2 separate regions of the Homo sapiens genome follow, and region 2 is linked to region 1. The links come from fine-mapping of genetic effects on gene expression. Tissue or cell type: whole blood. Region 1 holds a variant in brackets; the other region holds the start of a gene. All regions are shown on one strand. Distances are from middle to middle.

Region 1 (6,232 bases):
GGTTGGCCTTGAGAACATAAAGGAAGAGGCATGTATTTGACATGGTATTTTTCCCTTTCTTTATGTTATAATTGAGTAGTAGCCCTCTAATTTGTAGTTTGGGCAAGTACAGCCAACACCCTGACTCTTAACCTTATTATGAGAACTTCCTTTTTACCCCTTTTTTTGTTTTTGTGCAAAACAGAGATGGGGTTGAGGAAGGAGGGTTGGCGAGCAAGGCCAGCTTCTGCCCTACAGAATTGGGTGTGTCTTTTTTTTCAAGTGAGGCTTTGGGAAAGTGTTCAAATGAGAGCAGTCTTAAGGTCTCTAAGAGATGGGGAATGTGCTATGTATATCCTGCCTGTGAAAGCCCAAACCATATGGGAGAAGCTAGAGGATACTAAAAACAATGAAATTGTGATTTGGAAGTTTAGAACATTGTTTTAAAAATTACATTATAAATGTAAGACATGCTTTTTATGTGTATATCCGAAGGGAAACAGCTACATCCTCAAGTTTTTGCAGCCTATATGACTTGAGATTGGAGCTTGTGAATTTAACAGTACTGGTGCCATGAGAATGAGCAAAGCCTAGCCAATGGATACTATTGTGTTTAGATTGTTCATCTTTGGTAGCTTTAGGTTCTTGATCGAGGTTCTTAAGATTTCTAAGTCCTTTATAAAAATAGGTCAAGAGTCCTGTTGTTATGGAGGCTTGATTATCCCAGATATTAGGAGTGAACATTTTTAATAAATCTTTCAGAAAATCTTGGCTAGAAAGAATTCTAAGTTAGTTGTCTAACCACTGAAAACTACCTAGCCAGAGATCATTTAATGAGATATTCTTTGATCTTCATTGCATTTTTTTTGCTCTGGAAAAGGTGGTTCAATTTGAGTTTGTTTTCATGATTTGATTGCAGCTTACTTCATGCCAAGGATTTTTTAGGGAGAGGTCGAATTATTTTTCATTTGGAAGTCATAGGGAGACAGGAGTTGTACTTATGCTGCTACTTGCCAGGAACAGGTTGGGAAGAAAATTGTGGCTGTTGGAATTGATGATGTACTGGCCTAATATAGAAAGGAATTTGTAGGCAGGAGTAAACGTTAACTGACGGTGGGTTAGTGCCCTGCATCTTGCATATTTGAACTGTCTAGAGTTCCTGCCATTGCTGGGTATAAAACGAGGAGCTCTCTGTTGACCTGTAAATCATTAATACTTCTTGACTTAGAGTGTCACTTCACTTTATAGATGACATTTTCCTCTTTCCCCTTGATATTTTCTATGTTGTGTTAGATAATTGGTAGATATATAGTTGTGGTTTAGTACATTTAGGGCTTCTATTTATTTAGATTTTGTTTGTTGGAGTCTGTTTCCAAAAGGGAATGTGCCATTTAGTCTGCATCTGTATCTTTGTGGACTTGATGATCACTGGTTTGATTTTGAAAAATGTCTTTTCCAGCTTTTAGTTACTCTCATCAAATGTCACATATTTTCTAATCACATGCACTCCTTTACCACAGAGGCACATAATCATTTGGCCTCATAGCAGTTATCCATGGCCGTACTGTAGTAAAGTTCCTTAGAACTTTGCCAGGAGTGAACTAGAAAAAAGTGCTTACTAGGGCCTAAGAGTTGCTTTGTGCCGTGTAGTCCGGCCTTTGCACTAGTAGATCATTGCTGACATAGGTCAGTTTAGAGACCTTTCTGTGTTAATGCCTCCTGGTACTGTCTTAAGATACGTACAGTGTCTGTTTTTAGATCTATGCATATGTCATGAAGCTCCTTGTGGGCTCTGCATGAAGCTGCTGCTTTGTTTTTGGGTTAACAGATGTGCCTGTCAACTAGCATGTGTATTGTCCAAATTCCATAAACTTAAGGTTTTTAAGGGCTGTGTGGTTTCTGAGCTCTATGTGTCTTTCCTATCCTTGTACCTTCAAAGGGTGAGAAATGAGATTTATACATCCAAAGTTAGTCTGATAAATATGGCTTTTTGTTTCTCCATGTAACCTAGACTGTCAAAAATAAGTGATGGTGATAAGTAGGCCTGGAGCCTCAGCTTCTGTAAATCTCATTCCTAAAATTTTGCTAGACTCGTGTTGGCAAAAACAAATACCTGTGGATTGTCCTTAAGGCTTTTAATCAGATACCTGTGTTGCTGTTAGCTGAACTGTAGTGAAGCATCGATCCAAATCGGTCTTCTGAAGTATCAGTTATGCTTTTGAGTTTAGAAAATACTTAGGTGTTAGTCTAGTCTTCCCATTCATGAATCAGTGTATGTCCATATCAGAGAGCCTCAACTTCTTTTTTCTTCCTTTTTAAAAATGATTTTAGTGTTTTGATTTAGTGTATACTACATAGTTCAGTATTATTGGCTTTACCAGTGTTGACAGAAAAATTTTAAATCTCCAGTTGCAAACAGCAATGGATTAGGATATGGAAATAAAATCATGGTGACATCACTGCTGAGTTATCTTAAACCTCTGCTACTTAATTCTCCATATTGAAATGCATACTCCTCCACATACATGGCTTCCAAGTAAAGGCAATTGTAGAGGGGCCCTGTCTATCCCAGTATGGTTGGATTTTAAACATATCTGTGTTTCCGTTATTTTGGGAACTGATTAATATTTACAATTTTTTTTGTTTATGAGTTATTTTGATACTAAGAAAAGAGAGAATCTAGAACATCTTGCAGTTGAAATACAAATTTTATTCTTTTGGTCTTGGGAGAATTTAAGCAGTCTATGCAACTCATCAAATGGTGAGAAATAGCCCTCCGAGGTTCCAGTAAGCTTTCAGTGACTTTGATACCTCCCCAAGTTTCTTGAGTTGCTGCTTGTTAACACCCAGCTTTTAACTGAGTGTTTGCTCCTGATGGTTTAGGAGATTTTCATGTTGTATCACACTGTCAAGTTTTATTTTGTCTTTTTATCCCTCCGTGGATGTGAGTTTGAAACAAGCACGGTACAGTAATCCTGCCTGATAGAGTAGTCTGGAATGAGAATTACTTTTTGGGTGAGAGAGTTCTCCATTTTAATGTTTCTAAAGTTTTTCATATGAACTTGGCATTGGAAAAGGGAGGTAAAGAAAAAGGACGTTTACTAAAAGCAGTGTCTACTCTTCCCCTTTGTGAGTGTTTATTCATGGCTAATGAAAAAAAGAGAAGGACTCTTGGGTTTTGTGTTGCCATGTTAAGCATGGAGAGGGATGCTTGACAGCATGCTAATTGAAGCCAGAGCAAGTATGTCCTTCATCAGGTAATCAGGAACTCTTCAGTTGAAGCTGAGGAACTAACTGATTAGTTGTTGATCATAATATAATTGGTTACAAAGTGGAAGTGCCAGCTGGCTTAAGTACCCAAAGAAAAGAATGCAGCAGCCTAACTTAGTGTTACCATATGTTACTGAATTTGAAACTGACCTTTTTTCCCACCCTACTTCACACACCTAAAACTCTT[TTC/C]TTGTCAGACCAAAGAGCGAAAAGAAAAAAAAAAGTAAAACACTTTACCAATCTGTCACTCAGGTACAATTTTGTGGTGAGATTTTTGTCTGTTCTCTTTGTATTGCTCTTAAGAGTCCTTTCTCAGCATATTATTCTGCCATTGCCTCTGTCTTCCTTGGGGCACCTCAGCTCTGGATGCTACCCCTGGGATATCTACTGCTGTTATGTGAATGATAGGAGGTAAGTGACCATTATAGTAAGGGCTCTTTGTAAAAAAATTCAAAAAATTTAAAAAGGATGTATACATTTTATAGTCTGGCTATCAGTTTGATATCTTGCTGTCAAGTATGTTTCTCAATCTGTATTTATCCATCCCATCAATAAATGTTAATGGTAAAACACTCATTTGATTGTTGTTTATGTGTACTGTCCTCAAATTAGTCCTTAGTCTTTTTTTTTTTTTTTTTGAGACGGAATCTAGCCCTGTCACCCAGGCTGGAGAGTACAGTGGCGTGATCTCGGCTCACTGCAACCTCTGCTTCCCGGGTTCAAGCGATTCTCCTGTCTCAGCCTCCTGAGTTGCTGGGATTACAGGCACCCACCACTATGCCCAGCTAATTTTTGTATTTTTAGTCGAGACGGGGTTTCACTGTGTTGGCCAGGCTGGTCTCGAACTCTTGACCTCAGGTGATCTACCCACCTCGGCCCCCCAAAGTGCTGGGATTACAGGCATGAGCCACCGCGTCCAGCCTAGTCCTTAGTCTTTAACTGTAATTTTATTGATATGTTTACAATTTTGTTTCAATTTTGGTATTAGTCTGTTTTCTTATTGTGCAAGATCCTGTGGGAATTGAGTCCGTTGGAAAGACCCAAGATTTGTCGATCAGTAAACCCAGTAGTATAAAGTATGTTGTAGTCAAAGGGAAGAAAAAAACCCTCACTCTGTATTGTTACATGAATACCTGGAAGAGTAACTTGTACAAAAAAAAAATTATAGCACTAACAGATGATGGCAGCATGTACTGCTTATCTAGCAAGCATTATCAACATGATTCATAATTGTATACGTGGTTCTTTGAAAAGCCTGACATGTTAGTACAGACATAGCATTGTATCTGGAGGAAAATACACTTCGAAGAAAAAAACATTCTTGGTAGTGCCTGGAAAAATTGATAGTGAATACTCATCCTGAGACGTAATAAAACCACATTTACAAGGTAACTCTTGTAAATTACACACTGAAAATAAAGAACTTTTATGCTAAAGTACTCCATACTTATTACACAAAGTTAGTAATAGATATAGTTTGAAAGCTTTAAAAGGAAAAAAATAAATAATGATACTTCTGAAAAGTCACTTGAGTCGTTTCTTCTGTTTTCTAAAATAAGGTAGCTAATTTTACAAACTGTATACCGCTCCTGAAAAGAATATGAAATCGGAAATCTTTGCAGAAGTTGCTGATAGAATAGGAAGATGCTGACAGTTTAGGAATTCTGGTGTGGTTTGAAGCACTCCCCTGCTTTTCATTCATTCCTTCTTTAGAAAATAATACCTACTTCCCAACACTTTCGGAGGCTGAGGTGGGAGGATTGCTTGAGGCCAGGAGTTCAAGACCAACCTGAGCAACAAAGTGAGACCCCATCTCTGCACACAGACATACAAATTAGCCAGGCACAGTAGTGTATAGTCCCAGCTACTAGGGAGGCTGAGGAGGGAGGATTGTTTGAGCCCAGCAATTGGAGGCTGCAGTGAGCCATGATTGACCACTGCACTCCTGCTGGGCTATAGATCTATACCCAGTCTCGGGAAAAAAAAGTTAAAAAAAAAAAAACTAAGTGCTGTGGACTGTACTAATGGGAATATGGCAGTAAACAAACATTCTGCCTTCAAAGAATTTACAAATAAGTAAAACATAGTATGTTAGGTGGTGATAAGCACTTAAAAAAAATTTTTTTTTTTGAGACGAAGTCTCACTGTCTCCCAGGCCAGAGTGCAGTGGTGAGATAACAGCTCACTGCATCCTTGACCTCCCTAGGCTCAAGTGATCCTCCCATCTCCTGAGTAACTGGGACTACAGGTGTGCACCACCACGCCTGGCTAATTTTTTTAGAGATGGGGTCACCCTATGTTGCCCAGTCTGGTCTTGAACTCCTGGGCTTAAGCGATCTGCCCGTCTGGGCCTCCTTCACTCTTGTTGGGATTATAGGTGTGAGCCACCACACCTGGCCATAATAAGCACTTTGGAGACTAAAACAGGGAATAGGGGATAGGGATGTGTGTGTGCATGTGTGTGTGTGAGCACGTGTGTGTGTTTAGGTAACTAGGGCTGTGGGAATTGGAAAAAAGGTGGCTAGGGAAGGCTTCATGACCAGAAGCTTCATGACCTTTAGGGAAGACCTGAAGGAGGTGACAGCAAGTCATGGGAATAACTAGGATAAGATCATTCCAGGAAACGTGAGACATCAAAGGTTCTGAGGTGAGAATATGCTGGTATGTTTGAGAAATAGCAAGGAAACCAGTGTAGCTGGTATAGGAATGAGTGGGGAGGGGGTATTGGAGAGAGGAGAGTAGCAGGATATGAGGTTAGAGAGGCAATAGAAAGCCAGATACAACAGGACCTTGTATAAAGACAGTGAATGGAACAGACGCTATTGGAAAGTTTTGAGAAGGGAAATGACATCCAACTTAGGTTTTAAAATGTTCATTTGGGCTGCTGTGTTGAAAATAGATCATAGGAGTCAAGGGCAAGGAGCTCTCACAATTTAGGTAAGAGATGAGGGTGGCTTGGACAGGTTGGAAGTACCCAAGGTAA
Region 2 (6,232 bases), 28 kb before region 1:
ACAAACAGTCAATGCCAGCCTGGAAAGGGAGATAGGAGGGAGGCTGTACCCTTCAAAGCCACAGGGGCAGAGATGCCCAAGACCATGGGGACCCACCTCTTGGATCAGTGTGACCTGGATGTGAGACAGGGAGTCAAAGGGGATCATCTTGGAGTTTTAAGATTCGACTGCCCTGCTGGATTTCGGACTTGCATGGGGCCTGTAGCCCCTTTGTTTTGGCCAATTTCTCCCATTTGGCATGGTTGTATTTACCCAATGCCTGTACCACCATTGTATCTATGAAGTAACTAACTTGCTTTTGATTTTACAGGCTCATAGGTGGAAGGAACTTGCTTGTCTCGGATGAGACTTTGGACTGTGGACTTCTGAGTTAATGCTGAAATGAGTTGAGACTTTGGGGGACTGTGGGGAAGGCATGACTGTATTTTGAAATGTGAGGACATGAGATTTGGGAGGGGCTGGGGGCGGAATGATATGGTTTGGCACTGTGTCCCTACCCAAATCTCATCTTGAATTGCAACTCCCACAATTTCCACATATGGTAGGAGGAACCCGGTGGGAGGTGATTGAATTATGGGGGTGGGTCTTTCCTGTGCTGTTCTCATGATAGTGAATGAGTCTCATGAGATCTGATGGTTTTAAAAAAATGGGAGTTTGCCTGCACAAGCTCTCTGTTTGCCTGCTGTCATCCATGTAAGATGTCACTTGCTCCTCCTTGCCTTCCGCCATGATTGTGAGGCTTCCCCAGCCACGTGGAACTGTGAGTTCTCCATTAAACTTCTTTCCTTTGTAAATTGCCCAGTCTTGGGTTTGTCTTTATCAGCAGCGTGAAAATGGACTAACACAGCTGTTCAAAAGATAACATACATGACTACATAACTGAAAAAGTGCTTATTCTACTAAAAAATCTATTTTGTAAGTGCTTATTCTCTTAATAGTAAAGAGTCTGTGAGGGAAGAAATTTGAAATCCCAAGTTCTTTTACTTTATAACTAGAAGTAAGTCATTTAAATCTTCCTGAACCTCAATTTCTCCAGGGTAAAATGGAGCTAATACTAACTACAGGCAGTATATGGCAGAGGTGACCTGAATGGAAAGAAATACTTCTGAGAATGAATGACAATCAAGCATAGTAAGATCACCCATGCCTAGAAATGACAAAACCCAAAATATTATCAAAGCAAGATGAAGGATTCTAATATTATCCAAATCTATCTAAAATTACCCATATTTAATCAAGGTAAACTGAATATGGTTCCAGAAAAGCAGGAATACAGCTTGCGTGAATGGAAAGATCAATGGAATTAGATTTAAGATCTACACTTATTAGTGGTGTAGTGAGGGCAAACTCCCAAAGCCTCAGTTTCTGTATTGTGGGTGTTTTGCACATTTATCTGACAAAGATTTATGGACTATTTACTAGGGCCAGGGCTTTACTAGGTAAGTGCCATACAAAAATGAAGGCATTGCTCTTGCCTTCAATTTCAATACAATGTAACAAATATTATAACAATAAGGGCTACTGAATATTTTCTAAGTACTAGGTACTATTATAAATACTTTTTACTCATTAAATCTTTACTCCCTTTCACTATCTAAAACATAGGTATTATCACAGAAAAGAGGCATAGAGAAGTTAACTATCTTGCCCAGCACCAAACAGTTATCAGAGGCTGGAGCTGGGATGTATCTTTTTTTTTTTTTTTTTTTTTGAGAAGGAGTCTCGCAATGTTGCCCAGGCTGGAGTGCAGTGGCGCGATTTCGGCCCACTGCAACTTCTGCCTCCCGGGTTCAAATGATTCTCCTGCCTCAGCCTCCCGAGTAGCTGGGAGTACAGGCGTGCGCCACCACGCCTGGCTAATTTTTGTATTTTCAGTAGAGATGAGGTTTCACCATGTTGGCCAGGCTGGTCTCGAACTCCCGACTTCAGGTGATCCACCCGCCTTGGCCTCCCAAAGTGCTGGGATTATAGGCTTGAGCCACCGCGCCCGGCAAAGGAGCTGGGAAATATTTTGACAGAGGGCAAGAACTTGCTAATCTGTGCAAGTGAGGGGTAGTGGTGGAGGCTTTCCACACTCAAGGGGCAGTTTTAGTTCACCCATTCGCAAACGTACTTAAAAATTACCTCTTAGAGTTGTGCTGAATAAATGAAACAGTATATTTAAGTCAGTATTGTGCCTGGGACATGTAAGCTCTTAATTAATGTTATTAATTTCATTTTATTCCTTTAAGTTGGATCACTGGCGAACAACGTGAGAATGTTTTCATGCCTTTGGCTACACATTAAAGCGACCTCTCCAAATGGGTTGTCGCATTTTACATTGCTACCAACAATGTAACAGCCTTCTAGTTGCTTTATGCTCCGATATACGAAAGAGCCCCACCATTTGATTCTGTTTTTCAGTTTCTGACAGCCTCACCTACTTTCTCTTTCAAGTTCATCTGCCACATTTTTACTTATTTTATTTTTTTGAGACGGAGTCTCGCTTTCTCACCCAGGCTGGAGGCTGGGGTGCAGTGGCGTGATCTCGGCTCACTGCGATCTCCGCCTCCCGGGTTCAAGCGATTCTCCTGCCTCAGCTTCCCGAGTAGCTGGGACTACAGGCGCGCGACACCACGCCGGCTAATTTTGTATTTTTAGTAGAGACGGGGGTTTCACCATATTGGCCAGGCTGGTCTCGAACTCCTGACCTCGTGATCCGCCCGCTTCGGGCTCCCAAAGTGCTGGGATTACAGGCGTGAACCACCGCGCCCGGCCCATCTGCCCCATTTTACATCACCACTGCCGTCACAAACAAAGTTCTCGTAAGAACCGCCAAGCGGCGCGTGGGCGGCCGCCCCATCCCACTATAATTGCGGCCTCGCAGCCTGACCCGGGGCGCCAACGCTCAATCCGGTTCTCGCGGGAAGATACACGGTTTTTAAGAAAGAACTTCTAACCCCACTCCACCGCCCAACGGTCACGTGACGCGCCTGCGTCCTCGCCTCAAGGTTTTTTCTGGTCGCATATTGGCTGTTAACTCGGCTACGGGGTGTAGCGAGGTGCATTCCGGAAGTAGGTCCTTTGACTTTTGCTTCCTCTACGGAGGCAAGTAACAACCCGGCGGTCGACGCTTAGCGGAAGTTCGTCAAGTCGCAGTTGCCCCCGCACAGCGGATGTGGGTCGCCTCTTAGGTGACGCTGGGAAGTGCCTGCAGCCTTCGCCGCTGCCTTCTGGTTGAAGCACTATGGAGGGAGAGAGGAAGAACAACAACAAACGGTGGTATTTCACTCGAGAACAGCTGGAAAATAGCCCATCCCGTCGTTTTGGCGTGGACCCAGATAAAGAACTTTCTTATCGCCAGCAGGCGGCCAATCTGCTTCAGGACATGGGGCAGCGTCTTAACGTGTATCCTTGTGGCCTAGGCCTTCGGCCTTGGAGTTGGTCCCGCCATGCTCTGGCGTCCGGGTCTCAGGCTCTGTGGGGGGGACGAAAGTGGGGAAGAAGGTGGGCAGAAGCTGGATGTCTAGTTGGGAGAGCCCACGATGGGGCGGGCTGAAACTCAGTTAGCGCTAGGGAAGCGAGGCAGAGTTGATTTCCCGCTCGCTCACCCGTGCCGCCAGCCTTGCTGGGAATTCGTATCCTTCCCGGCTTTGTGTTTTAACCAGCCCTTCCAACTCTGTCTTCATTGTGTTCTGATCTGCTCTGGTGACGTTAAGATTCTCATTTTCCGCTGTGCCCTAGGGGTCTAGGTCTGGCAGAGGTTTCTCTGTTGACGGCTGCCTCCCAAACCTAGTGTGTAAATTTCGAGAAATTCAGTACCTGAAAGTGTTATAAAGGGTGGACTAGAATTAATGCCTCAGCCTTGGTCCAAAATCCATTCCTCATCTACTAGCTGTTTAAGTGACCTCTCAAATTTTTGGCCGTCTTGTCTATAAAATGGGATAATACCTCTTGTGTTTGATTCTGTGTCCAGCACAGTGCTTTGCATTCAGATGCTCAGTTAGTAGCTACTGTTTTATAGAATTTCAGAGGAAAGATGTTAGTTTACGTTTGTAGGGGATACCCACGAATCTAATGTTTTAAATAGTTTACAAAATACCGGGTCCTTAACTTACTTAGAGTGATGATATGTATTTCATTTTCAAAAATGAGGTAACGGCTGGATGCGGTGGCTCACGCCTGTAATCTCTGCACTTTGGGAGGCCGAGGCGGGTGGATCACCTGAGGTCAGGAGTTCGAGACCAGCCTGGCCAACATGATTAAACCCCTGTCTCTACTAAAAATACAAAAAATTACCCCGGCGTAGTGGCGGGCAGCTGTAATCCCAGCTAGTCAGGAGGCCGACGCAGGAAAATCGCTTGAACCCGGGAGGCGGAGGTTGCAGTTAGCCGAGATGGCGCCACTGCACTCCAGCTTGGGCAACAATAGTGAAACTCCGTCTCAGAAAAAAAAAATTAAAAAAAAAATGAGGTAACCTCTCCCACATATTTTTGTTTGTTAGGAAATACACTTATTTTATGGTGGAGAAAACTAGTATAGTTTTAAATTTCTTTCCACTCTGCGTGTGAAAATTTTCTTGGGTGCAGCTTCTATTTAAATGTGTGGCTGACAGTAATGTGTGTATCTTAAGGGTGTGTTCATCTCAAAATGGGTGTCTGTTTTATCGCCAGTTTGTTTCCTGCTGATGTCCAGGTTTGTTTCCTAAGCATCCTGTCAGTATGGAGTTAAATCTTTTTGTTCGAAATTCTATTTCAGTGCATCCTTAAAATGCTTTCCTTTTTGTATGTGTGTTGTCATTAAGGTTGTCAGCCAGGCGCGGTGGCTCGCGCCTGTAATACCAGCACTTTCGGAGGCCAAGGCAGGTCGATCAGTTGAGGCCAGGAGTTCAAGACCAGCCTGGCCAACATGGTGAAACCATGTCTCTACTAAAAATACAAAAAGTAGCCAGGTCTGTTGGTGGGCGCCTGTAATCTCAGCTACTGGGGAAGCTGAGGCAGGAGAATCGCTTGAATTTGGGAGGTAGAGGTTTCAGTGGGCCAAGATGGTGCCACCGCACTCCAGTGTGGGCGACAGAGTGTGAGCCACCGCGCCTGGCCGCCTTATATAGTTTTTAAAAAAATCTGTCTAGATTCATACATCCTGAGATGTTTGTTTATTCATTCAGTACATTTATATTAAATATTTGTTATGTGTAAGGCATTGTGCTAAGTGTCAGTTGGCGATTAATAATTTGGTGAAAGAAAACAGACATATTCTTTGATTTGGAGAGATAAGTATGATTTTCATTTAGTAGTATCTACTTGCTTGGCCATTTCATCCTTTTGGGAGGGAGATAGAGGTTATCTTTTCCAGAATTATACCTGCCTGTTTTTGGATCTTAACTTGAACACTTCAGCTCACAATTGACTATCAACACTGCTATAGTATACATGCATCGATTCTACATGATTCAGTCCTTCACACAGTTCCCTGGAAATGTAAGTATAATTTTTTTATATGATATAATCCTTTTGTGATTGATTCCACCTACCTATTCCATTTGTGGTTGGTCTTTGCTACTGAACTGTAACTTGAACTTTAGAATTTAGGGTTGATCACTTCCATTATGTGCTGTGTTGCTGTTCTGAATCCAGCTTTTCAGTTTTCCTGTTAAGTGTCTACTTGTCTAGTGGATTTAGTATATCCATGTCGATTCTCTAAAGAAGTAGATTAGGCCGGGTGCAGTGGCTCACAACTGTAATCCCAGCACTTTGAGAGACTGAGATGGGAGGATCACTTGAGCCCAGGAGTTCAAAACCAGCCTGGGCAACATAATGAGACCTCATTTCTACAAAATATCAAAAACAAAAACAAAAAGCAAGTAGCTGGGTGTTGTGGTATGCATCTGTGGTCTCAGCTACTCCAGCAGCTGGCAAGAGGATTGCTTGAACTCAGGGAGTTGAGGATGCAGTGAGCCAAGATTGAGTCGCTTCACTCCAGCCTGGGCATCAGAGTGAGACCCTGTCTTCAAAAAAAACCCCAAAAAACAGATTATCAGACATCTAAAGTCAACATTTTGGGGTTGGAGGAGTAACATTAAAGGGGAAATCATGTGGAATTTAGGTATAGCTTTCTTTTTCTTGCTGGGGTAGGGAGACAGGCAGGGTCTTGCCCTGTTGTCCATGGTGGAATGCAGTGATTTGATTATGGCTCATTGCAGCCTTAACCTTCTGGGCTCAAGCAGTCCTCCTGCCGTAGCCTCCCAAGTAAC

The links. PIP is the estimated chance that this variant, and not a neighbour inherited with it, causes the effect.
Region 2: it holds the start of CCNT1, and the variant in region 1 is fine-mapped to the expression of CCNT1 in whole blood (INTERVAL, PIP above 0.99).

Annotation. Positions count from the first base shown.
Region 1 is chr12:48,686,051-48,692,282 of GRCh38, reverse strand. It overlaps CCNT1 (cyclin T1), which reads left to right. Exons shown (of 9, transcript NM_001240.4): 9 at 1-3,825. Among named protein-coding and RNA genes, the nearest start is that of KANSL2, 6.9 kb to the right of the region's middle. The variant TTC/C (reference allele first, on the strand shown) is at 3,437.
Region 2 is chr12:48,713,670-48,719,901 of GRCh38, reverse strand. CCNT1 (cyclin T1) reads left to right here and starts at 3,195. Exons shown (of 9, transcript NM_001240.4): 1 at 3,195-3,387; 2 at 5,378-5,459. The coding sequence starts at 3,227. RefSeq lists enhancers at 2,441-2,680, 2,080-3,080, 3,151-3,430.